Linked DNA regions of Homo sapiens. The protein of the gene in region 1 interacts with the protein of each later gene in a pairwise test. Each region holds a gene or a part of one and is shown in the gene's direction. Other genes may lie near its edges.

Region 1 (2,207 bases):
AAATCAATAAATCTTGCTGGGTAACTAGTTCATTAACTCAAGACTCAATCAACAAAACTAAAAGTAAATTCTGAATGTAACATAGAATTTAAAAACCATAATACTCAATGCTGGTAAACATACACAGCAGTTACTGCTGGCAAAAGTGAATGGAATAAAACTTTTGAGGAAAATGTAGTAACAGTTATCAAAATACCTTAAAATCTGCATCCTTTGTGACAAAGCGCTTCAATTCTACATTTTCCTCAGGAAGTAAATTTTGTACAGTTCTCCTTTAAATTAGGAAAAGAAAATTAGCACATTATTGCTAAGTACTAGAAATACTGTGAAAGTGGACCTAGAAAATTCTTATGATGGAATATTAAGCAGATATAAATTACTGCTTTTAAAATTTTTCCTAATGTGAATTTTCTAAGCTTTTAACCGTGAACATAGATTCCCTTTGGCAAACCACCTTGATTAAATTATAGACAGAATAGAATTTTGGTAATAGTTCCGAGTATGTATAATGTTAAAGGTGGTACTTAATCCGCAGGGAAAAGATGAATTATTTAAAAAATCTGGTTGATTAATAAATTCCTAGGGAATTGGTTAACACTGTAGCAGGCAGAATTCAGGAGAAGAAATAATAAAGACATTAAAATCACTTTTGTAAACTTTTTAAATAAGGGAAATTGATTAAAACAACGCGAAGTTGTAAAATGCCATATACTGCATACATTTTGTGGGAAAAAATGTGCATTTATCTGCTCACCAAATTATCTTATTAGCTAGCAGTAGAGCTCTTTGTGTGATGGGAAGATGGGATAACAGGCTGTTGTTACTGTACTGGTTTTTTTTTTTAATATATTTAAAAAAAAGAGTGTCTCCTAAAGTGTAAGCGCTATCATGCTGGACTAATGTTTTAATTTAATTTAATTGTTGTCTTGGTAGAGATGGGGTCTCGCTATTTTGCTCACGCAGATCTCAAACTCCTGACGCCCAGGTACACTCCCATCTCGGCCTCCTAAAATGGTGGGATCACAGACGTCAGCCACCGAGCCCGGTCACTTTTTTGTATTCCCCACAGTATTGATGTATATCTTCTGCGTTCAAAAGCAATTTTTTAAAGCCTCATAACGTGGTAACAGAATACTTTGCACATTACAAAATTCAGAACACGGAAACAAGAAGCTCGCTTTTTTTTCCCCCCTATTTCGGTTTGGCCCTTTAGATTTCCCCTCCCCCACCGGGGCGGGACTTCCCGCCGACTTCTTTCAGGTTCTCAGTTCGGTCCGCCAACTGTCGTATAAAGGCGCTGCCTCAGGCCAGAGGCCTCACAAAGCGTTGGGTGAGACTCCTCTTGCTCGTCATGTCTGGCCGCGGCAAAGGCGGGAAGGGTCTTGGCAAAGGCGGCGCTAAGCGCCACCGTAAAGTACTGCGCGACAATATCCAGGGCATCACCAAGCCGGCCATCCGGCGCCTTGCTCGCCGCGGCGGCGTGAAGCGCATCTCCGGCCTCATCTACGAGGAGACTCGCGGGGTGCTGAAGGTGTTCCTGGAGAACGTGATCCGGGACGCCGTGACCTATACAGAGCACGCCAAGCGCAAGACGGTCACCGCCATGGATGTGGTCTACGCGCTCAAGCGCCAGGGCCGCACCCTCTACGGTTTCGGTGGTTGAGCGTCCCTTTCTATCAATAAAAGGCCCTTTTCAGGGCCACCCTACTTTCTCAGCTGAAGAGTGGTAACACTGAGGAGTGGTTTTGGTAGGTACGGAATTTTGCTTGGTTCTGAGTCAGTTCTGGGGGGAACAGTTTTTTGAACACAGCGGCACACGTGTGGCCATTCACCCGGGGTCACTGTAGGCAGGACTAATTACGAGATGTAATGTCTAAACTTGCTCAAAATTCGTAAGCTTGTTTACGTAATGGAGAAAATACTCGTACACAGAATGTGCAGTACCAGAAACGTTTATGTAACCCCCGTAGTGAGCTTGACAGTGGTAATCGGAAATCGTTTTTGAAAAGCCTCCAAATCCACAAGTATTTGTGGGTTTTTTTTGTTTCGTCTTTGTCTGCGAGTTGGAGTGCAGCGGCGCGATCTCGGCTCACTGCAACTTCCGCCTCCTGGGTTCAAGCGATTCTCCTGCCTCAGCCTGCCGAGTAGCTGGGATTACAGTTTTGCGCCACTACACCCAGCTAATTTTTGTATTAGTAGAGATGGGG
Region 2 (3,500 bases), on another chromosome or scaffold:
CAAGTCGGATGGATCACCTGAAGTCAGGAGTTCAAGACCAGCCTGGCTAACACACAGTGAAACTCCGTCTCTACTAAAAATACAAAAAATTAGTCAGGCGTGGTGGCAGGTGCCTGTCATCCCAGCTACTAGGGAGGCTGAGGCAGGAGAATGGCTTGAACCCGAGAGGCAGAGGTTGCAGTGAGCCGAGATTACACCACTGCGCTTCAGCCTGGGCAACAAGAGTGAAACTGTGTCTCAAAAAAAAAAAAAAAAAATTGAACCCTTAATTTGTAATAATGCTTTGACAACTTTGCTAGATCTTGGGCTAGGTCCTACCTGGACCTTCCTCTCTTTTGCCAAATAATGGAACTAATGAGCTGGCAGAAATCCTGTACAATTTTAGAAGCCTAATATGAGTGACTAAATGTAAATAGGACAGTTTTAGGAAAGAGTGGTGGAGCCTGAATCAGTGAACTTTGGGGAAGGAGCAAGAGGAGGGGCTTGGGATTTAAACAAAGGGTTTTTTTTTGTTTTGTTTTGTTTTTTGTTTTTTTTTTGAGGTGGAGTCTCACTTCGTTGCCCAGGCTAGAGTACAATGGTGCAATCTCGGCTCACTGCAACCTCTGCCTCCCGGATTCAAGTGATTCTCCTGCTTCAGCCTCCCAAGTAGCTGGTACTACAGGTGTGTGCCACCTCACCCTGCTAATCTTTTATATTTTTGGTAGAGACTGGCTTTCATCATATTGGCCAGGCTGGTCTCGAACTCCTGACCTCATGATCCGCCTGCCAGGGCCTCCCAAAGTGCTAGGTTTACAGGTGTGAGCCACTGCGCCTGGCCTAAACCAAGGTTTTTATTCAGTGATAGTTTATTCCATGTCAGGAACATAATTCTCAGATTTTAAAGGCTGACTTCCAGGTATCTTAGAAGGATATTTGGGGGTCTCTGTCCTAGTAGAGACCTGATTTTCAAGAGGTCTCTTTCTCATATGGAAAAAGTCCATAGCTGGTGGATTGACATTCCTTTCTTTCTTTTTTTTTTTTTGTTGAGGCGGAGTCTCACTCTGTCGCCCAGAAGTGCAGTGGTGCAACCTCGGCACACTGCAACCTCTGTCTCCTGGGTTCAAGCAATTCTCCTGCCTCAGCCTCCTGAGTAGCTGGGATTACAGGTGCCCGCCACCATGCCTGGGTAATTTTTTGTATTTTTAGTAGAGATGGAGTTTCACCATGTTCGCCAGGCTAGTCTTGAACTCCTGACCTCAAGTGATCCACCCGCCTCGGCCTCCCAAACTGCTGGGATTACAGGCGTGAGCCACTGTGCCCGGCCAATGCCTTTCTTGCTTCTACAGGTGCACAGGTGTTGGGATTTCGAGGTTGTGGAAACTTGGTCTGGAAATGTGGGCATTTTACAATAATGATAACTATAGCTAGCATTTTTGGAGCACTGTCTTAAATGTCATTGAATCCTTACATCTGACCTATTATCCTGTCCTAACAGAGGAGGAAACTGAGATGAGTAATTTGTCCAAGGTCATTTGGCTAATAAGCAGGGCCTCGATTGGAGTCCAGGTTTCTTTGCCTCCTGTCCCAGTGCTCTTACATCCCTCTCTCTCTAGCTAACGTGCTTTTTCCCCTAGAAATTTGAGTAAGTCATTTTAACTACAAATCAAACAGGTGGCAGCCTGGAAACCAGCACTGAGGCACTTTGCCACCCTCACCCCAGATTTCTTTTTTTTTTTTTTTTTTTTTTGGGACGGAGTCTCACATTGTTGCCCAGGCTGGAGTGCAGTGGCACAATCTCAGCTCACTGCAAGCTCCGCCTCCCGGGTTTACGCCATTCTCCTGCCTCAGCCTCCTGAGTAGCTGGGACTACAGATGCCCTCCACGATGCCCGGCTAATTTTTTGTATTTTTAGTAGAGACAGGGGTTTCGCCATGTTAGCCAGGATGGTCTCGATCTGCTGACCTCATAATCCATCCGCCTCGGCCTCCCAAAGTGCTAGGATTACAGGCATGAGCCACCATGCCTGGCTCATTCTTTTTTCTTTTTTTTCTTTTCTTTTTTTTTTTTTGAGACAGAGTCTGACTCTGTCTCCCAGGCTGGAAGGCAGTGGCATGATCTTGGCTCACTGCAGCCTCCGCCTCCCGGGTTCAAGTGATTCTCCTGCCTCAGCCTCCTGAGTACCTGGGATTACAGGCGAACACCACCACACCCGGCTAATCTTTTATATTTTTAGTAGAGACGGGGTTTCACCATGTTGCCCAGGCTGGTCTTGAACTCCTGATCTCAGATGATCCACCAGCCTTGGCCTCCCAAAGTGCTGGGATTACAGACATGAGCCACTGGTGCCTGGCCCTTTTTTTTTTTTTTTTTTTTTTGAGATGGAGTTTCACCTTGTAGCCCAGGCTGGAGTGCAATGGCACGATCTTGGCTCACTGCAACCTCCGCCTCCCGAGTTCAAGTGATTCTCTTACCTCAGCCTCCCAAGTAGCTGGGATTACAGGCATGTGCCAACACGCCTGGCTAATTTTCTGTTGTTAGTAGAGATGGAGTTTTACCATGTTGGTCAGTCTGGTCTCGAACCCCTGACCTCAGGTGCTCCACCCACCTCGGCCTAAAGTGCTGGGATTACAGGCGTGAGCAAGATTTTATTCTTTTTTTTTTTTCTGAGATGGATTCTTGCTCTGTCACCCAGGCTGAAGTGCAGTGACACGATCTTGGCTCACTGCAACCTCCTTCTCTGGGGTTCAAGTGATTCTCATGCCTCAGCCTCCTGAGTAGCTGGGATTATAGGCCTGCACCACCACATCCGGCTAATTTTCATATTTTTGATAGAGACGGGTTTCACCGTATTAGCCAGGTTGGTCTCCGCCCGCCTCAGCCTCCCAAAGTGCTGGGATTACAGGCGTGAGCCACTGTGCCTGGCCTTCATTCTTGACCATGCAAAACATCCTTTAATTGTAGAAGCCCAGTTCTCCCAACTCAAGCTGCCTTTCTACATTTTTCTTTCTTCTTCAATTTTTGTTGTTGTTGTTGTCGTGGTCAGATACACATAATATAAAATTTGCCATTTTAACCATTTTTAAGTTATATAGCTTACTGGTATTAAATAATGTTGTGCAACCATCACCACTCTCCATCTCCGTAACTCCTCAAAATTGAAACTCTGGGCCGGGTCCAGTGGCTCATGCCTGTAATCCCAGCACTTCGGGAGGCTGAGGCAGGTAGATCACTTGAGGTCAGGAGTTCGAGGCCAGCCTGGCCATCATGGCAAAACCCCATCTCTACTAAAAATACAAAAATTAGCTGGGCGTGGTAGCACATGCCTGTGATCCCAGCCACTAGGGAGCCTGAAGCAGGAGAACTGTTTGAACGCGGGGGCGGGTGGAGGTTGCACTGAGCCAGGATTGCTGCACTGCACTCCAGCCTAGGTGACAGAGCGAGACTCCATCTCAAAAAAAAAAAAAATTATAACTCTGTACCCATTAAACACTGACTCCCTCTTTCATGAACCTCCTCCC
Region 3 (3,500 bases), on another chromosome or scaffold:
CGCGCCCAGCCTCAATTGTTTAATTTTATGGAAATTTACTTGTCATTTCTTCAGTATCACCTGGCAATTTTTTTGTTGTTTTTGGACCCAGAGTATGGAGCCTGATTCTGAGTCATAGAACTTGGCTACTGGACTTTGTTCGTTGAGCATTCTTCAAAGCCTAGAATTCTTGTAGGACATGAATAGACTTAAACTCCCATAGTTCTGTGGCAGTCTTCAAGGGCAACAAAATGCTATTTGATTATGACTCCAAGTATCCCATAATAAGTGGCATAGGTTCCTGTTCAACTAACTATAATGTGCATGTTGAAATATCATGTGGACTCGATATATTGCTAAGGACACCAAATAATCCTGTTGGATAAAAAATGAGATTGAGTGGTTTGGTGATGTGAGGGCTTTGAGCTATATTGTTTTTATATGTGTATTTATTCCCCAGGACAGTCTCCATGGTTCCCATTATACGTGCTTATTCATTCAAATTAAGAGTAACATTAAGGATTTGGGCCAAAAAGCTATTTACTATTAGTTACTGGAACCAATTTGCCAGCAGATAACAGATTGAGATTATGTCCTGTGATTGAGTGGAGGGGAAGTTTAAAAGTCTTCATGTGTCTGATATTTTGCTTTTATGGAGGGAAGATAATAGCATGCATTTTATTTTCAAGCAAATGTATGTGGGTTTTAAGTGCAGGGTGCTAGAGACCTGGCATAATCGGTTTTCAGTTTTGTGCTTGCTAAGTTACTTTACAAAATTTGAGTTTGTATTAAAATGAAAATTTAAGCTCTGTGTTAGTACTCATGGTGTTTACATTATATTTAAAGCTGCCAATGACAAGCTCCAGAAAGGGCCCAGACTTTCTCGAGGGTAATGGGAAGGAGGAAGCAGTGCATACTTCACTTATTGTTTATGGTTTGAACTTCTAGCTCTCTTAGTGATTTCAAGTTAAGAAAGTGGAAGTAGTGGTCTTCAAAGTAGAATGTGCATAATTTTTTTTTTTTTTAAGACGTAGTCTTGCTCTTGTCGCCTAGGCTGGAGTGCAGTGGCGCGATCTCATTGTTCTCATTGTCCAACTCCCATTTATGAGTGAGAACATGCAGGGTTTGGTTTTCTGTTCCTGTGTTAGTTTGCTGGGAATGATGGTTTCCAGTTTCATCCATGTCCCTGCAAGGGACATGAACTCATCCTTTTTTTTATGGCTGCATAGTATTCCATGGTGTATATGTGCCACATTTTCTTTATCCATTCTGTCATTGATGGGCATTTGGGTTGGTTCCAAGTCTTTGCTATCCAGCAATTGATTTCTGTCTTTGAAATCAACTTGTGGCCCAGAGGGGCCGTAGGAGCACCAGTCATCTTGCTCTTAGCTCAGGCAGTGGGAAGGAAGAAGAGAAGAGGGCAAGTATGCTCTCTCCCTATTTATTTTTTTAGAGCAGTTATAGGTTCTTGGCAAAATAGAGTGGAAAGTTACAGAGAGTTCCCATATCCCCCATCCCTCTCCCCTCTTTCAAGTTCAGAGCTTCCTCAAAATGCCATCCAACAGCTTCTTCTTACACCTCATTGGTCAGAACATAGGCAGGCTGGGCTAAAGGAGACCGGGGAAGAGTAGTTTTTTAGCTGCACACTTTGCTGTTTTATATAATGGCGTTCCTGACCAAGGTAGGCAAGGAAGATTGTTGAGTAGGAAACCTAAAATCTCTGTTTACAGCCATATAAGATAATCTCTTATTTTCTCTTCCTTAAGCAAGAGAAAGTTGAAGTCCATACCATAAACTGGTATTTTTAGAAAGCTGTTTTTTTGGAGGTTGTTTTTGCTGTTGAAATATATCTACTCTGTTTAATTATTATTAGTTCTTAAGGGCTTCATCTTTAGCAGGGAAAACAATCATTTAAAATTATACTAAGAAATCATACAATTACACAAGATACATGGAAGGAGGTATTTTATGTTCATTTGGAAGTACATTAAGTGTTTTATAATGAGATTTGAGGGAATGCTTTACAGAATGGGTAAGAACAATTTAAAACCCTTAAAAAATTTTACATACAGTTCAATATATATGTCATTTGGTACACGCTAGATTTCTGCTATTAATTATTTTAAATTTGCACCAGCAGTAAATGCTTCAATTTGTATTGATTTCAAAGGAAACTATACAAGAGAATCTTTCCTTTTTTTCATCTTTTTCATAGTCGTAGCACATTGCCGAGATAGGGATTGCTTCCTCTGTAAATGTGTTTTCTGTCTTCTCTCCAATCGTTTTTCCAAAAGTGCATACTCCTTCCACGTTACTGCAGACGGTCAGATGCAGCCTGTCCCTTTTCCCCCCGACGCCCTCATCGGACCCGGAATCCCCCGGCATGCTCGCCAGATCAACACCCTCAACCACGGGGAGGTGGTGTGCGCTGTGACCATCAGCAACCCCACGAGACACGTGTACACAGGCGGGAAGGGCTGCGTCAAGGTCTGGGACATCAGCCACCCTGGCAATAAGAGCCCTGTCTCCCAGCTCGACTGTCTGGTGAGTGAACAGGAACTGGTGCACAAGGGCAATTTCTCCCTGGAGATTCAATAAGGAAATAGCTGTGTGGGCCTGGGTTTTATTCCCATTATGAGGAAATAGAAGCCCCTTCTGTTTCCTGTGTTGGTTATTTAACCCCCTCGGCTCCCCATTTAAATGCGAAGGTTTCATTTGTTGCTGTTGTACTGGCTAAATCCCAGAGTTGATGGATTTCTTTTTAAAAAATATTTTACAGTGGTTTACAGAGGCTCTCCTCATGTATGGATGTGTATTACAAAAGAGAGTTTCCCATTTAATGGACAAAAGCACAACTGGGCCTGGACTCTGATCCCTGCCATCCACTCGTTTTTTAATTGACCTACAGCCTTTAGATAAATATAGAATAGTAAATATTTGATAACATGGCATAAAAACCATTCTGAACAGGGTCTGTGTTTTTAAGGGAGACCTGAGAGAGCTGGTTAGGTTTTATGGCCTTAACTTCAGGAAAGGGTTAAAGGCTGTCACTGCAAAGACCCGGGGCAGCCATCAACGAAAGAGAGCAGTGAGAATGCTTTCCCAGAGTACCTAAGCCACGTCCGCTCAGAGCCTGAGAATACCATTTAGCATTTTTCAGGGACATAAAACATGTTGGGACATGTTCGGATCTCTTTTTTCTTTTTTCTTTGAGACGGAGTCTTGCTCTGTCGCCCAGGCTGGAGTGCAGTGGCCGGATCTCGGCTCACTGCAGGCTCCGCCTCCGGGGTTTACGCCGTTCTCCTGCCTCAGCCTCCCAAGTAGCTGGGACTACGGGCGCCCACCACCACGCCCGGCTAATTTTTTGTATTTTTAGTAGAGACGGGGTTTCACCATGTTAGCCAGAATGGTCTCGATCTCCTGACCTTGTGATCCGCCCGCCTTGGCCTTCCAAAGTGCTGGGATTATAGGCGTGAGCCACCGCGCCCGGCCATGTTCCGATTTCTAAACCATAACCCCAG
Region 4 (3,500 bases), on another chromosome or scaffold:
CAGAAAAACTGTGGTTCTCCTTTGGCTTCAGTGCTACCAAAAACTTCCTGATTCTTCTGATATTTCCTTGATACCATTTGTCTTTTTTTTTCCTTTTCCTTTTTTTTTTTTTTTGAGACAGGGTCTCTTGCTCTGTCACCTGAGGTGGAGTACAGTGGTGTAATCACGGCTACGGCTCACTGCAGCCTCAACCTCCTGGGCTCAAATGACTCTCCCACCTCAGCCTCCCAAGTAGCTGGGACTGCAGGGGTACGCCACCACACCTGGCTAATTTTTGTAGAGACAGGGTTCCTACAGGCTGTTCTCAAACTGCTAGGCTCAAGCGATCTGCCCACCTTGGCCTCCCAAAGTGCTGGAACTACAGGCATGAGCCACCATGTCCAGCCCTGTCTGCTTTTTAACTGTCACTGTACTAGCAGGTTTCTGACCTTTCTCCTTTTATCACTGTATATGCTTTCCTCAGGTGACCTTAACCAGCCTTATGGTTTTAACTCTTACCTATATACTGACATTGCTTAAATCCTTGCCCTTAGACTAGAATTTTCTTCAGATTTTCTATTTTCTGCTGCCTCCCAAATCTCTCCTAGGCTGTGAAAACTCACATTTTCACATCCTTCTCTCAGTTTTTCCTCTCATATGTTTCTAGAGTCCTTGACCCCTTGGTCTTCTTGTGCTGTTCCAGTTCATGCCCTCATCGTTTTTTATGTGATGTAATAACTCAGCTTCTTGATTGGTCTCTATGCACTTCTTTTTGCTACCATTTCTTTGTAGCTGAAAGAGTGACTTATTTAAAACTCAAAATTTGTGCATATTGCTTACATTCCTATTTAAAATCTGTCATGAAGGCTGGGGCAGTGGCTTACGCCAGTAACTCTAATACTTTGGGAGGTTGAGGCAGGAGGATTGCTTGAAGCTGGGAGTTGAAGATCAGCCTGGGCAACAAAGTGAGATCCCATTTCTACAAAAAAAAAAAAAAAAAAAAATAGCCGAGTGTGGTGCATATGCCTATGGTCCCAGCTGCTCAGGAGGCTGAGGTGGGAGGATGGCTTGAGTCTAGGAGGTTGAGGCTGCAGTGAACTATGATCGTGCCACATTAAATTATCCATACCATAATCATTTGTGTTACCCACTAGACTGCTTGAGGGCAACTACTTTTATTGCCTTTCCTCTGGTTTCTAGCACAATTCCTTGCTCATGGCAGATATTAAATATATCCTGTGTTCTTTTGGGAAAGTGTCATTATTTTTACTTTGAAAATGTTCGCATTTTCTTTTGTTTCATTCTAGCAACACGCTAGAAGGGTTTATGAAATTCTTCGACTACTGGTAACTGACATGAGTGATGCCGAACAATACAGAAGCTACAGACTGGATATTAAAAGAAGACTAATTAGCCCATATAAGGTAGGACTTTCAAGAATCTTAAACACTGTATTCTTTTCACTGTTTAAAACAGAAGAAAAGCTACCAAATATCAGTATATGAGAGAGTCCAAGTCATTTTGTAAAATTAACTTTTACAAAAGTAGAAATATTCTTCCAGTAATTTATAAAAATTCTCACTCATGGCCGGGCGTGGTGGCCCACACCTGTAATCCCAGCACTCAGGGAGGCCAAGGCGGGTGGATCACCTCAGGTCAGAAGTTCAAGACCAGCCTGGCCAACGTGGTGAAACCCTGTCTCTACTAAAAATACAAACATTAGCTAGGCTTGGTGGTGGGCGCCTGTAATACAGTGACTTGGGAGGCTGAAGCAGGAGAATCGCTTGAATCCAGGAGGTGGAGGTTGCTGTGAGCCAAGATTGCACCATTGCACTCCAGCCTGGGTGACAAGAGCAAAACTCCATCTGAAAAGAAAAGAAAAGAAAAGAAAAAAAACCCGGGTGCAGTGGCTCACGCCTGTAATCCCAGCACTGTGGGAGGCCGAGGTAGGTGGATCACTTGAGGTCAGGAGTTCAAGACCACCCTGGCCAACATGGCGAAACCCCATCTCTACTAAAAATACAAAAATTAGCTGGGCATGATAACACGTGCCTGTAATCCCAGCTGTTTGAGAGGCTGAGGCACGAGAATCACTTGAACCCAAGAGGTGGAGGTTGCAGTGAGCTGAGATTGTGCCACTGCACTTCAGCCTGGGTGACAGAATGAAATTGTGTCTCAGAACAAACAAACAAACTTATCCCAAGGATAGTCTACCATGGTTAGCTTTTCTTTCATTTGTATGCATCTTTAAAAAATCTGAATGCCTAGTCTCTTCCCTAACAAATTATGTTGTTTTTCCCAAGTTTCTTGTCTTCTCAGTTGTTATATATATATATTCTCTTTTTTCTCTCTTCCCAGATAAAAGCAAAGTTATACATATATATTCTCTTTGCTTTTGCTTTCTTCTTCCTAAAAATAGCCTTTATTGCTATTTATTAATATAATCTTTGTACTTTACCATAGCCGAAACCATGTTAGTACTATTATATTTTTAAACATTCTTCTTGCCCTTTTTTCCCACTTCGTCGTCATCTTCCATATTTTCCCTCCTAGATCAAATTGGCCTTATCATTTGGACATTGTCAGGATGGATATTGTTTATGCCACCTTATGTGAATGAAAATTTGCTATCTAGGCAAGGCGTGGTGGCTCATGCCTGTAATCCCAGCACTTTGGGAGGCCGAGGTGGGCAGGTCACCAGAGCTCAGGAGTTCAAGACCAGCCTGGCCAACATGGCAAAACCTCGCCTCTACTAAAAATACAAAAATTAGTTGGGTGTGGTGGTGGGTACCTGTAATCCCAGCTACTTGGGAGGCTGAGGCAAGGGCATCACTTGAACTCGGGAGGCAGAGGTTGCAGTGAGCTGAGATCATACCACTGCAATCCAGGCTGGGCAATGGAGCAAGACTCCATCTCAAAAAAAAAAAAAAAATTTAAAAAAAAAAAAAGGCCAGGTGCGGTGGTTCACGTCTATAATCCCAGCAATTTGGGAGGCTGAGGCGGGCAGATCATCTGAGGTCAGGAGTTCGAGACCAGCCTGGCCAACATGGTGAAACCCTGTGTCTACTAAAAATACACAAATTAGCCAGGCATGGTGGGAGGTGCCTGTAATCCCAGCTTCTCCGGAGGCTGAGGCAGGAGAATTGCTTGAACCTGGGAGGCAGAGGTTGCAGTGAGCCAAGATTGCGCCATTGTACTCCAGCCTGGGTGACGAGCAAAATTCCATCTCAAAAAAGAAGAAAATTTGTCATCTAGTTGCAGCTGAGTAGTGGGATGATTGGCAGAATATTTAATTTATTCAACATATAATTATTGAGTACAGTTGCTCAATGATAAAATGTTGTTGCTGCATTTATATATACTATACCTATAGGGTTATACATCACAATAGCTGGGAACATAAGTGACCAAGTTGATTCTACATTACAATTTGAGAAAGTAAATTAACTAACTGTATCAGGTACACATAGTTTTGGTTTTCCTTTGTAAATTTAAAGAAAATTTAAGTTTTATTTGCCATG
Region 5 (3,500 bases), on another chromosome or scaffold:
GAACGTATTTACCGGGCAGTCAAAGATCTATTCCTACATGAGCCCGAACAAATGCTCTGGAATGCGTTTCCCCCTTCAGGAAGAGAACTCAGTTACACATCACGAAGTCAAATGCCAGGGGAAACCATTAGCCGGAATCTACAGGAAACGAGAAGGTAAGCTTTTGAAATGGCCTCGTTCTGATCCCAGCTGGTCGGGTTGCAGAAGCCTCTGTCCTCTGCAAGAATGCACATATGTATTTATCCAACCTTTTCAGTCTCAGATTCGAGAGGTTTGAGCCATGTTCTGTCTTGCTGCTGAAAGAATGGCTTGTCCCAGGGTGTGTGCCCTGTTGGTTTGACAGGTTTTCCCTGCTTTCACAAGAGTTAGCATATCCTTCAAGCTTGATTGTCTTGCTTAGTTGCAAAAATAACATACCTGACCCACAATTAGAGAGGCTCACAAGTGCTGAAAGTGCAGAAGTCATGAATTCAGGTTGTACAGACCAGGCAATTGCAGACCTAACTAATGTGTTCATGTAGGGAACTGACTTCCTTCCCTTTTATGAGCTGGCCTTGACCCCATTTCTTTTTCTTTTTTTGAGACGGATTTCCGCTCTCGTCCCTCAGGCTGAAGTGCAATGGCACGATCTCAGCTCACTGCAACCTCCGCCTCCTGGGCTCAAGCGATTCTTCTGCTGCAGCCTCCTGAGTAGCTGGGATTACAAGCGGCCGCCACCACGCCCAGCTAATTTTTGTATTTTTGGTAGAGACGGGATTTCACCGTGTTGGCTAGACTGGTCTCAAACTCCTGACCTCAGGTGATCCACCTGCCTTGGCCTCCCAAAATGATGGGATTACAGGCATGAGCCACCGCGCCTAGCTGCCTTGACCCCATTTCTAAAGTTTCCTGCCAATCAAGCATTTGGTGTTAGTTTCTGAAGCAGCATCCTATGCAATGAGATTTGGAGTTAAAATGTTAAACCCGAAAATACAGGGTTAATGAAAACGGTCTGGTCTTGCAAAACAAACTGAAACCTCTTAGACATCTTGCTCTAATCCAAATATTCCCTTTCAAAGCTGCAGTGGGGAGTGTCAGCTTTCCCCAATTCACCATGCTCTCTTCTAATTAAAACTTGTCTGAAAGAAGCAGAGCCTCTGGCTGCCAGCAGCTCCATACAAGGAAGCCTTGTGTTCGCTAACAGAAAGTGTCATAAATGACGATTTGGCATGACCTCTGGGGCCGGATCTGAGAACCAGGGCTGGGCAAGCCCTGAACTGGGGACAGGAGCCCACCCTGTGCTTGATCTCCCCTGGTACACAGGGCAATATTGTTTTATTTGATCTTCAGATGACTTGGGTTCCAATCTTAAGTTTGCCACCTGAAAGAAGGAGGCTTAGATAGGTTGCTGCTCTCTTCTGAGCCTCTGTTCTCTCATCTGTAAATGGGGAGAGAGGAGTCTGACCTCACACACACAGGACTGTTTTGAAGGGTGGTTGCAGCGTGGATGCCAAAGGGCTTTGTGGTGGACTCCATGTGCCAGCTCTTCACCCCTGGACTGCCAGCTCATCCCTGGACCTGTGGCACTTAGAATTCCTGCCCATAGGGTTGGGGAGAGGCGCTGTCTATAAATGGTAGTTGCCCGGACTCTAGTCCTTTAAAATAGGGCAGTCTATACATTGTACCAAATGGTGGCCTGGTATACAAGCTAGTATATTTGGCTCATGGTTTTACTAAATGGCCATGATTAGAATTTTGGGTCAGAGTCCGGGCATGGTGGCTCGGGTTTGTAATTCCAGCACTTTGGTAGGCCAAGGCAGGAGGATTGCTTGAGCCCAGGAGTTTGAGACCAGCCTGGGCAACATAGTGAGGCCTCATCTCTACAACAATGAAAACAAAAAAAATTAGCCTGGCATGGTGGCATGCATCTGTAGTCCCAGCTGCTTGGGAGGCTAAGGCAGGAGGATCCCTAGCACCCAGGAGTTTAAAGCTGCAGTGAGCTATGATCATGCCACTGCACTCCAACCTGGGGAACAGAGAGAAACCCCATCTCTAATATAAAAATAAAAAGAATTTAGGTCAGCTGGACTTTGGAGACCCCAAGGTCCAGGCTGTGGTCCGTGATTCTGCTGTGATACAGACTGAGTGATAGATAATGTTCACGGGCACCACACACTCCTGGGCCTGATGTCCTGGCTTTAATTCTCTCTGATTTCACCCAGGAAGGTGTGTAGAGGAGGAAGAAAGATCTGGATGGTTTTAATGGTTTTTGTTTGTTTTTTTTGAGACACAGTCTCGCTCTGTCTTGCAGTCTGGAGTGCAGTGGTGCAATCTCGGCTCACTGCAACCTCCATCTCCCGGGTTCAAGCAATTATCCTGCCTCAACCTCCCAAGTAGCTGAGATTACAGGTGCCCGCCACCACGCTCGGCTAATTTTTTGTATTTTCAGTAGAGATGGGGTTTCACCATGTTGGCCAGGCTGGTCTTGAACTCCTGACCTCAGGTGGCCCACCCGCCTTGGCCTCCCAAAGTGCTGGGATTACAGGTGAAGTCACTGTGCCCGGCCTAATGTATTTATTTATTTTTCTGTTTTGTTTATCTAGATATAGTTAATATATCATAACGTTCATGTTAAAGCGTATGAGTCGGTGGTTTTTAGTATATTCACAGGGTTGCGCAACCATTACCACAGTCTAATTCCAGAACGTTTCCATCACCCCAGAAAGGTACCCATTAGGCGTCACCTTCGATTCCCCATCCCTCTAGTCCAAGGTAACCATTAAAGTACTTTCTGTCTCTGTGGATTTGCCTGTTTTGGACATTTCATATGGATGGAATCACAAAATACATAGCCTTTTGTGTCTGGCTTCTTTCACTGAGCATCATGTCTTCAAGGTTCATCCGCGGTGTAATAAGTATCAGTGCTTCATTCCTTTTTTTTATTTTTGAGAAGGAGTCTCTCTCTCTCACCCAGGCTGGAGTACAATGGTGCAATCTTGGCTCACTGCAACCTCTGCCTCCCAGGTTCAAGCTATTCTCCTGCCTCAGCCTCCCAAATAGCTGGGATTATAGGCGCACACCACCACGCCTGGCTAATGTTTTTATATTTTTAGTAGAGATGGGGTTTTACCATCTTGGCCAGGCTGGTCTCGAACTCTTGACCTCAGGGGAGCCACCCTGCCCAGCCCTTCATTCCTTTTTATGGCTGGATAATACTCCCTTTTGTGGATAGGCCACATTTTGTTTATTCATCTGTTGATGGACATTTGGGTTGTTTCCACTTTTTGGCTATTACAAATAAACTGTTACGTTCCTGCATAGATTTTTTTGGGGACATATGTTTTTAATTCTCTGGAATAGATGCCTAGGAGTGAAATTGCTGGGTCATATGGTAACTCTGTGTTTAACTTTTTGGGAAAATGTCAAACTGTTTCTAAAGTGGCTGCACCATTTTATATCTGTGAGCAGCGTACTATTTACTTAATTTTTTTTTCTTTTTTTTTTTTTTTTTGAGACAGAGT
Region 6 (3,500 bases), on another chromosome or scaffold:
AGGCAGAGTTTGCAGTGAGCCGAGATGATGCCACTGCACCCCAGTCTGGGCGACAGAGTGAGACCTTGTCTCAGAAAAAAAAAGTTTTTACCACTTTTTGCTGCTTAAACTTACACATACGATTGATTGCATCTTGTCCTTGTTTGGCTTCCTAAAATAATGGCAAATATGTTTTTGAAGAAGGTAGACTTTGCCTCACATCCTTCTTTTTCACTTGATTCTAGCTAGCCTCTTTCTTTTCCTGGGATTCTTTTGGATCCACGTCTCAAAACTTTTTTGACCGCAATAAGAAATATATTTTACACTAATCCTGTACACACATTGAAACATTTCACTAAACGTGCAGAGTACTCTGATATTCTTTTGTCTGCAGTATACTATTTCATTGTCTTAAGAAAGCAGTCAATTTCCATTGAACTGATTTCACAGCTGTTTATAGACCCAGGGTTTTGGGGGAAAAAGACTGCTGATCTGAAGAATAGGTCACCAAATCATGCCAACTTTGATTGCTTTCTGAGTCAGTTCCTTCCATCTCCAGCCCCAGCCACTTGTACAGATGGTCCCTTGCTTGTGATATTTCGACTTAAGATTTTTCACCTTTACAACGGTGTGGAAAGCAATTTGCATTCAGTAGAAACCATATTTCAAGTATCCACATAACCATTCTGTTTTTCACTTTCGGTACAGTAATCAACCAATTACATGAGATATTCAACACTTTATTATAAAACAGGCTTTGTGTTAGGTGATTTTGTCCAACAGTAGGCTAATGTAAGTATTCTGAACACATTTAAGGTAGGCTAGGCTAAGCTATGATGTTCAGTAGATTAGGTGTAGGAAATGAATTTTCAATTTTTCATATTTTCAACCTATGATGGGTTTATCAGGACATAACCCCATCAAGGAGTATCTATGTAAACAGATTAAGCAGTGACCCATTATTTGGTGTTTTTACTCATGTGTTTTACTTTGAAAGATTATAGGAGCCAAACCGAGACTTTCTAGTTTACTGTCGTGTGCAAGTGAAAACTGCTTGTTTTATTGTGAAGTCTCACAATGCTTAAAGAGGGAAAACAATAAAAATATTGCAAAATGTCTCCCAATGTGATAGGTTTTTTTTTTTTTTTTTTTTGGAATGGAGTCTCGCTCTTGTTGCCCAGTCTGGAGTGCGGTGGCACGATCTTGACTCACCTCAACCTCCGCCTCCCAGGTTCAAGCAATTCTCCTGCTCCAGCCTCCTGAGTAGCTGGGATTACAGGCATACGTCCGGCTAATTTTTAGTAGAGACGGGGTTTCTCCATGTTGGTTAGGCTGGCCTCAAACTCCTGACCTTAGGTGATCTGCCTGCCTTGGCCTCCCAAAGTGCTGGGATTACAGGTGTGAGCCACTGTGCCCAGCCTCCAATGTGGTAGTTAATAGATATGATGAACTTTTCTCTCTGGTGGTGAAATTTTAGTGGGTAATTTTTCATTGAAATTCTGGTACTATCACAGAGTTAGAAATCCTAACTTCCAATGTGATACGTGTTGGGCCTCTAATTACAGAAGTTATAACGCTTGTGCTTAGAACTTAGAGACATACTGCCTGGGCGCAGTGGCTTATGCCTGTAATCCCAGCACTTTGGGAGGCCGAGGCGGGCAGATCATGAGTTCAGGAGATTGAGACCATCCTGGCTAACACGGTGAAACCCCATCTCCGCTAAAAATACAAAAAATTAGCCGGGCGTGGTGGCACACGCCTGTAGCCCCAGCTACTCTGGAGGCTGAGGCAGGAGAATTGCTGAGCCTGGGAGGCGGAGGTTACAGTGAGCCGAGATTGCACCACTGTACTCCAGCCTGGGTGACAGAGCGAGACTGTCTCAAAAAAGAAAAAAAAACTTAGAGACATACCTACTATTGCAACCAAATCTAAAAGGGGTGTTTACTAAAGGGGAATATATTCTGTCTGAAAACTAGTAAGTGGAAAGCTTCAATTTGGGTAGTAGGTGAGCAGGATGATAGTTGGGGAAAGAAAGAGTGAGCCTACATTTGAAGCGGCTGGATTTGTATATGGCTAGGGAAATTCTGGAGATTCTCAGAGCCCTTAACAATACTCTAGAAAAGAGAAAGGTTTGGTATCAGGGTACAAAGATTTTTGAGGAAGACTAAGTCGCTTTTTGTTTCTATTGAGATTTGTTTGTTTTTGAGACAGAGTCGCGCTCTGTCACCCAGGCTAGAGTGCAGTGGCGTGATCTCGGCTCACTGCAACCTCTGCCTCCCGGATTCAAGCGATCCTCCTGCCTCAGCCTCCCGAGTAGCTGGGACTACAGGCACGTGCCACCATGCCTGGCTAATTTTTTTGTATTTTTAGTAGAGACAGGATTTCACCGTGTTAGCCAGGATGGTCTCAATCTACTGACCTCATGATCCAACCGCCTCGGCCTCCCAAAGTGTTAGAATTACAGGCATGAGCCACTGTGCCCGGCTCTATTGAGGTCTTTAACCACATAGCATGATTTCCATATCTTATTGGTATAGCCCATTTAATTAATAACTGTCCTGGTAAAGCATTTCTAGTCTTTATTTTGTCCTTTTACTTAGATTATTTTTATTTCCATTCATCTTACATGAAACTGGGCCTAAAGCTGTGTTATGGATATTGATTTTAAAAGTAATAAATTACAACATGAGATACCACTTGACTTAGTATGGCTGTTTACATATCTGCTATTCGTGAACTCGGACTCTGGGCAATCATCTTTTTCTCCTGATATAAACTTTTATTTTTCTTCCTTGCTTATAGAGAATGATTTTAACTGATCATTGTACTAATAGGAAGGAGTCCAGGTCATCCTGAGAAGAGTTCGCTTGTCCAGAGTCCAAGATGCAGATTTGTTGGATTTCTGTAAGCCACTCGAAGCCACATATTCATTTCTGATGACAGCTTTACACTTGTGCTGGAAGAACACCCACTGTGACAACTGCTGCCTATGTTTAGTCTGTCCAGGAGCTCTACCAACTAGCATGTTTGCAGAAAAACCTACACTGTTCTTGTTAGCAGCTATGTAAATATTAGATCTTTCTGAGTTTCTCTTCTCAGATCTGCCAATTTCTTTGGGGCAAATTGTATCCTGCAGTAGCCTCAATTTACCCTTTGAAATGAGGGATTAAAGGTTTTAGACATTCTTTGGGTTATCTGAAACACAATTCTTTTTGGATCAGTAATGTTTTATATATGTCCACTTTATGATGTTTAAAATTTTATTCCCCCTATGTATTAGTTTCCTGTGGCTGCTATAACAAATTACCACAGACTTGGTGGTTTAAAACAAGAGGAATTTATTCTTCTCAAAATTTTGGAGCCCAGAAGTCTGCAATCAAGATATTGAGGCCCCTCTGGAGGCTCTAGGAGAGAGACTGTTCTTTGCCTCTTTTAGCTTCTGATTATGGTCAGCATTCCTTGGCATATCTCTCTGTTCTGTTTTCACATTGTCTTCTCTTTTGAGTACTTGCATCAGAACT
Region 7 (3,500 bases), on another chromosome or scaffold:
TTTTTAATGTTTAGTTCTCATTTTTCCTGAGATTCACAGAGAATAAATTTTGTGTTTCCTTGTTCAGCTCTGACTACTCCATCTTTTTTTTTTTTTGAGGTGGAGTCTCGCTCGTTCCCCAGGCTGGAGTGCAATGGTGCAGTCTCGGCTCACTGCAACCTCCACCTCCCGGGTTCAAGCAATTCTCCTGTCTCAGCCTCCCGAGTAGCTGGGATTACATACAGGCGCCTGCCACCACGCCTGGCTAATTTTTGTATTTTTAGTAGAGACGGGGTTTCACCGTCTCTACTGTCACCCAAGTTGGAGTGTAGTGGTGCAATCATGGCTTACTGCAGCCTCGACTGCCCAGGCTCAAAATGATCCTCCTTGCTCAGCCTCCCAAGTAACTGGAGGTATAGATAGGCATGTGCTACCGCGCTCAGCTAATATTTTTTATTATTTGCTGCCCAGTTTGGTCTTGAACTCCTGGGCTCAAGCGATCCTCCTGCCTCAGCCTCCCAAAGTGCTGGGATTATAGGCATGAGCCACTGCATCCGGCTGACACCTTAACTCCTTTTATTTATTTTTTTTTTTGAGACAGAATCTCGCTCTGTCGCCAGGCTAGAGTGCAGTGGCGTGATCTCGGCTCACTGCAGCCTCCGCCTCCTGGGTTCAAGCAATTCTCCTGCCTCAGTCTCCTGAGCAGCTGGGATTACAGGCGCCCACCACCACACCTAGCTAATTTTTGTATTTTTAGCAGAGGCAGGGTTTCACCATGTTGGCCAGGATGGTCTCGATCTCTTGACCTCGTGATCCACCCGCCTTGGCCTCCCAAAGGGCTGGGATTACAGGTGTGAGCCACCGTGCCCGGCCAACCTTAACTCTTAAAACATCTACCTTGCTGGCCAACCTGCTGACCGATGAGAGAATTTACATAAAGGCATGTTGAAGAAATGTGGGGCTCTGCAGGTGAAAGGCTGTATCCTTCCTGCCATCCTTATTGTCTGATTTTTGCTACACATGAGGAGCAAACTCACCTGCCTTCTGTTTCTCACATGGAATTCAGCCAGGGGCTTCAGTCTCCTCAGCCTTTTTTCCCTTTTTGTTAAGGCTTTTTCTTTTCTTTTTTTTTTTTTTTTTTGAGATGGAGTGTCGCTCTGTCACCCAGGCTGGAGTGCAGTGGCACAATCTTGGCTCATTGCAGCCTCCGCCTCCCAGGTTCAAGTGATTTTCCTTCCTCGGCCTCCCGAGTAGCTGGGAGCCCGCCACCACGCCCGGCCAATTTTTTTGTATTTTTAGTAGAGATGGGGTTTCACCATATTGGCCAGGCTGGTCTCGCTTTTTCTTCTTTTAGCACACTTGTTTTCCTTTTAAATTAACCAGCCCTATGTCTATTCCTTTCGTCCTAATACATAGCAGATTACCTTTAAAGTAAAAACATAACTTTTTTTTTTTTTTTTTGAGACAGAGTCTCGCTGTGTTGCCCAGGCTGGAGTGCAGTGGCACAATCTCACTCACTGCAATCTCTGCCTCCCAGGTTTAAGCGATTCTCCTACCTCAGCCTCCCATGTAGCTGGGATTACAGGTGCCCACCACCACGCCTGGCTAATTTTTTTGTATTTTTAGTAGAGACGGGGTTTCACCATGTTGGTCAGGCTGGTCTCGAACTGTTGGCCTCAAGTGATCAGCCTGCCTTGGCCTCCCAAATGCTGGGATTACAGGCATGAGCCACCGTGCCCAACCTAAAAACCTAAATTCATGAAACAGATTAGTTGACAATAGGGGAGTTAATTGTATTTCAGAGAGAATGTTAGGTCTCTAAAATTTATTATTCCCTAGGTTGACATTAAAGTGTAAGGCAGTTACTTAGTCAGATTTTTTTTTTTTTTTTTTTGAGATGGAGTCTTACTCTGTGGCGCGGGCTAGAGTGCAGTGGTGCTATTTAGGCTCACTGCAATCTCCGCCTCCTGGGTTCAAGCAATTCTCCTGCCTCAGCTTCCCAAGTAGCTGGGACTATAGGCGCCCGCCACACCACCCGGCTAATTTTTTGTATTTGTTGTAGATACAGGGTTTCACCATGTTAGACAGGATGGTCTTGATCTCCTGACCTTGTGATCCGCCTGCCTGGGCCTCCCAAGTGCTGGGATTACAGGCGTGAGCCATTGCTGCTGGCCAGCTCTGCTAATTTTTAAAGTTTTTGTAGAAATAGGATTTTGCCATGTTGCTGGTCTCAAACTCTTGGGCTCAAGTGATCCTCCTGCCTCAGCCTCCCAAAGTGTTGGGATTACAGGCATGAGCCACTGTACTTGGCTAGTTTGAATCTAAAAGAAGTTTTTTTTTTTTTAATTAAATTTTCAGTATTAAGCTAAAGAGTATAGATATTTTTAGACTGGGTGCATTGGCTAACTTCTATAATCCCATCACTTTGGGAGGCCGAGGTTGGAGGATCACTGGAGGCCAGGAATTTGAGACCAACCTGGGCAACATTGCAGGACTTCATTTCTACAAAAAATAAAAACACCAGATGTGGTGGTGTACACTTGCAGTCCTGGCTACTCGGGAGGTTAGGGCAGGAGGATTGCTTGAGCCCAGGAGTTCGAGGCTACAGTAAGCTATGATCACACCACTGTGCTCCAGGCTGGGCAGCAGAGCAAGGATCTTGTATAGTTTTTTTTAAGGTATAGTTTTCTTTTCTTTTTTTGAGACAGAGTTTTACTCTATGGCCGAGGCTGGAGTGCAGTGGCGTTAGTTAGCTCAGCTCACTGCAGACTCCTCCTCCTGGGTTTAAGTAATTCTCCTGCCTCAGCCCCCACCCTAAATAGCTGGGATTACAGGCGTGTGCCACCACGCCCCTCTAATTTTTGTATTTTTAGTAGAGACCAGGTTTCACCATGTTGGCCAGGCTGGTCTTGAACTCCTGACCTCAGGTGATCCGCCCCCGCCAGGCCTCCCAAAGTGCTGGGATAACAGGTGTGAGCCACACCCCTGGCCAAAGTGTAGATATTTTTATGGCTTTATGTAGATAGGTAGATATAAATATGCGTATATGTGAGTACGTATTTTCCTAATTGGAATATTGGATGTGCAAAAATCTATATTTTTAGAGCTATTTTATATTTTTACTAAAATATTTGTTGTTTTTAGGAGTGATTACTTGGTGAGTGTCAGCCACTGCGTAGGGCGCTTGGGCATATAGCAGGGGTACTTACAAATGAGCCCTCTTGGAGCAGCTTCCTTTTGGCTGGTTCAGGGAGGTGAATGCTGTTGGAAAGCCTTAGCTCTTCACATGCTGCTGGGTTTTGGTTGTCTGTGGATATGTAGGGACCTTGGGTCTTGGTCTGTAAGCCCATTTTCTCCCTGGGTGGCCACCTGAATCTAGCAAGGTGTAGTTTAAGTAGAGTCTCTTCAGAGAGTTGAGGATGTTGTGCTTGTTAAGGAAGACCGGTTTACATCTGTGTGTACATTACCTTCCTCAGGCTTCCTCAGGCCCAGTGCTCATGGAAGGGACGTTGAGGGACTGA

What was found.
Region 2: the proteins of H4C11 (region 1) and PHF20 interact in binary tests that used the Homo sapiens proteins (3 or more experiments, as listed by UniProt).
Region 3: the proteins of H4C11 (region 1) and TLE1 interact in binary tests that used the Homo sapiens proteins (3 or more experiments, as listed by UniProt).
Region 4: the proteins of H4C11 (region 1) and HAT1 interact in binary tests that used the Homo sapiens proteins (3 or more experiments, as listed by UniProt).
Region 5: the proteins of H4C11 (region 1) and KMT5A interact in binary tests that used the Homo sapiens proteins (3 or more experiments, as listed by UniProt).
Region 6: the proteins of H4C11 (region 1) and CBX5 interact in binary tests that used the Homo sapiens proteins (3 or more experiments, as listed by UniProt).
Region 7: the proteins of H4C11 (region 1) and KDM4A interact in binary tests that used the Homo sapiens proteins (3 or more experiments, as listed by UniProt).

The regions. Positions count from the first base shown.
Region 1 is NC_000006.12:27,822,774-27,824,980, forward strand, and holds H4C11 (histone H4), read left to right. Parts: upstream 1-1,318; 5' UTR 1,319-1,351; coding exon 1,352-1,663; 3' UTR 1,664-1,707; downstream 1,708-2,207. UniProt on the Homo sapiens protein: Core component of nucleosome. Nucleosomes wrap and compact DNA into chromatin, limiting DNA accessibility to the cellular machineries which require DNA as a template.
Region 2 is NC_000020.11:35,778,515-35,782,014, forward strand, and holds part of PHF20 (PHD finger protein 20), read left to right. Parts: intron 1-3,500. UniProt on the Homo sapiens protein: Methyllysine-binding protein, component of the MOF histone acetyltransferase protein complex.
Region 3 is NC_000009.12:81,592,048-81,595,547, reverse strand, and holds part of TLE1 (transducin-like enhancer protein 1), read left to right. Parts: intron 1-2,273; coding exon 2,274-2,523; intron 2,524-3,500. UniProt on the Homo sapiens protein: Transcriptional corepressor that binds to a number of transcription factors. Inhibits NF-kappa-B-regulated gene expression. Inhibits the transcriptional activation mediated by FOXA2, and by CTNNB1 and TCF family members in Wnt signaling.
Region 4 is NC_000002.12:171,977,961-171,981,460, forward strand, and holds part of HAT1 (histone acetyltransferase type B catalytic subunit), read left to right. Parts: intron 1-1,286; coding exon 1,287-1,403; intron 1,404-3,500. UniProt on the Homo sapiens protein: Histone acetyltransferase that plays a role in different biological processes including cell cycle progression, glucose metabolism, histone production or DNA damage repair. Coordinates histone production and acetylation via H4 promoter binding.
Region 5 is NC_000012.12:123,390,632-123,394,131, forward strand, and holds part of KMT5A (N-lysine methyltransferase KMT5A), read left to right. Parts: coding exon 1-155; intron 156-643; exon of another isoform or gene 644-799; intron 800-3,500. UniProt on the Homo sapiens protein: Protein-lysine N-methyltransferase that monomethylates both histones and non-histone proteins. Specifically monomethylates 'Lys-20' of histone H4 (H4K20me1).
Region 6 is NC_000012.12:54,273,623-54,277,122, reverse strand, and holds part of CBX5 (chromobox protein homolog 5), read left to right. Parts: intron 1-3,500. UniProt on the Homo sapiens protein: Component of heterochromatin that recognizes and binds histone H3 tails methylated at 'Lys-9' (H3K9me), leading to epigenetic repression. In contrast, it is excluded from chromatin when 'Tyr-41' of histone H3 is phosphorylated (H3Y41ph).
Region 7 is NC_000001.11:43,656,649-43,660,148, forward strand, and holds part of KDM4A (lysine-specific demethylase 4A), read left to right. Parts: intron 1-3,500. UniProt on the Homo sapiens protein: Histone demethylase that specifically demethylates 'Lys-9' and 'Lys-36' residues of histone H3, thereby playing a central role in histone code. Does not demethylate histone H3 'Lys-4', H3 'Lys-27' nor H4 'Lys-20'.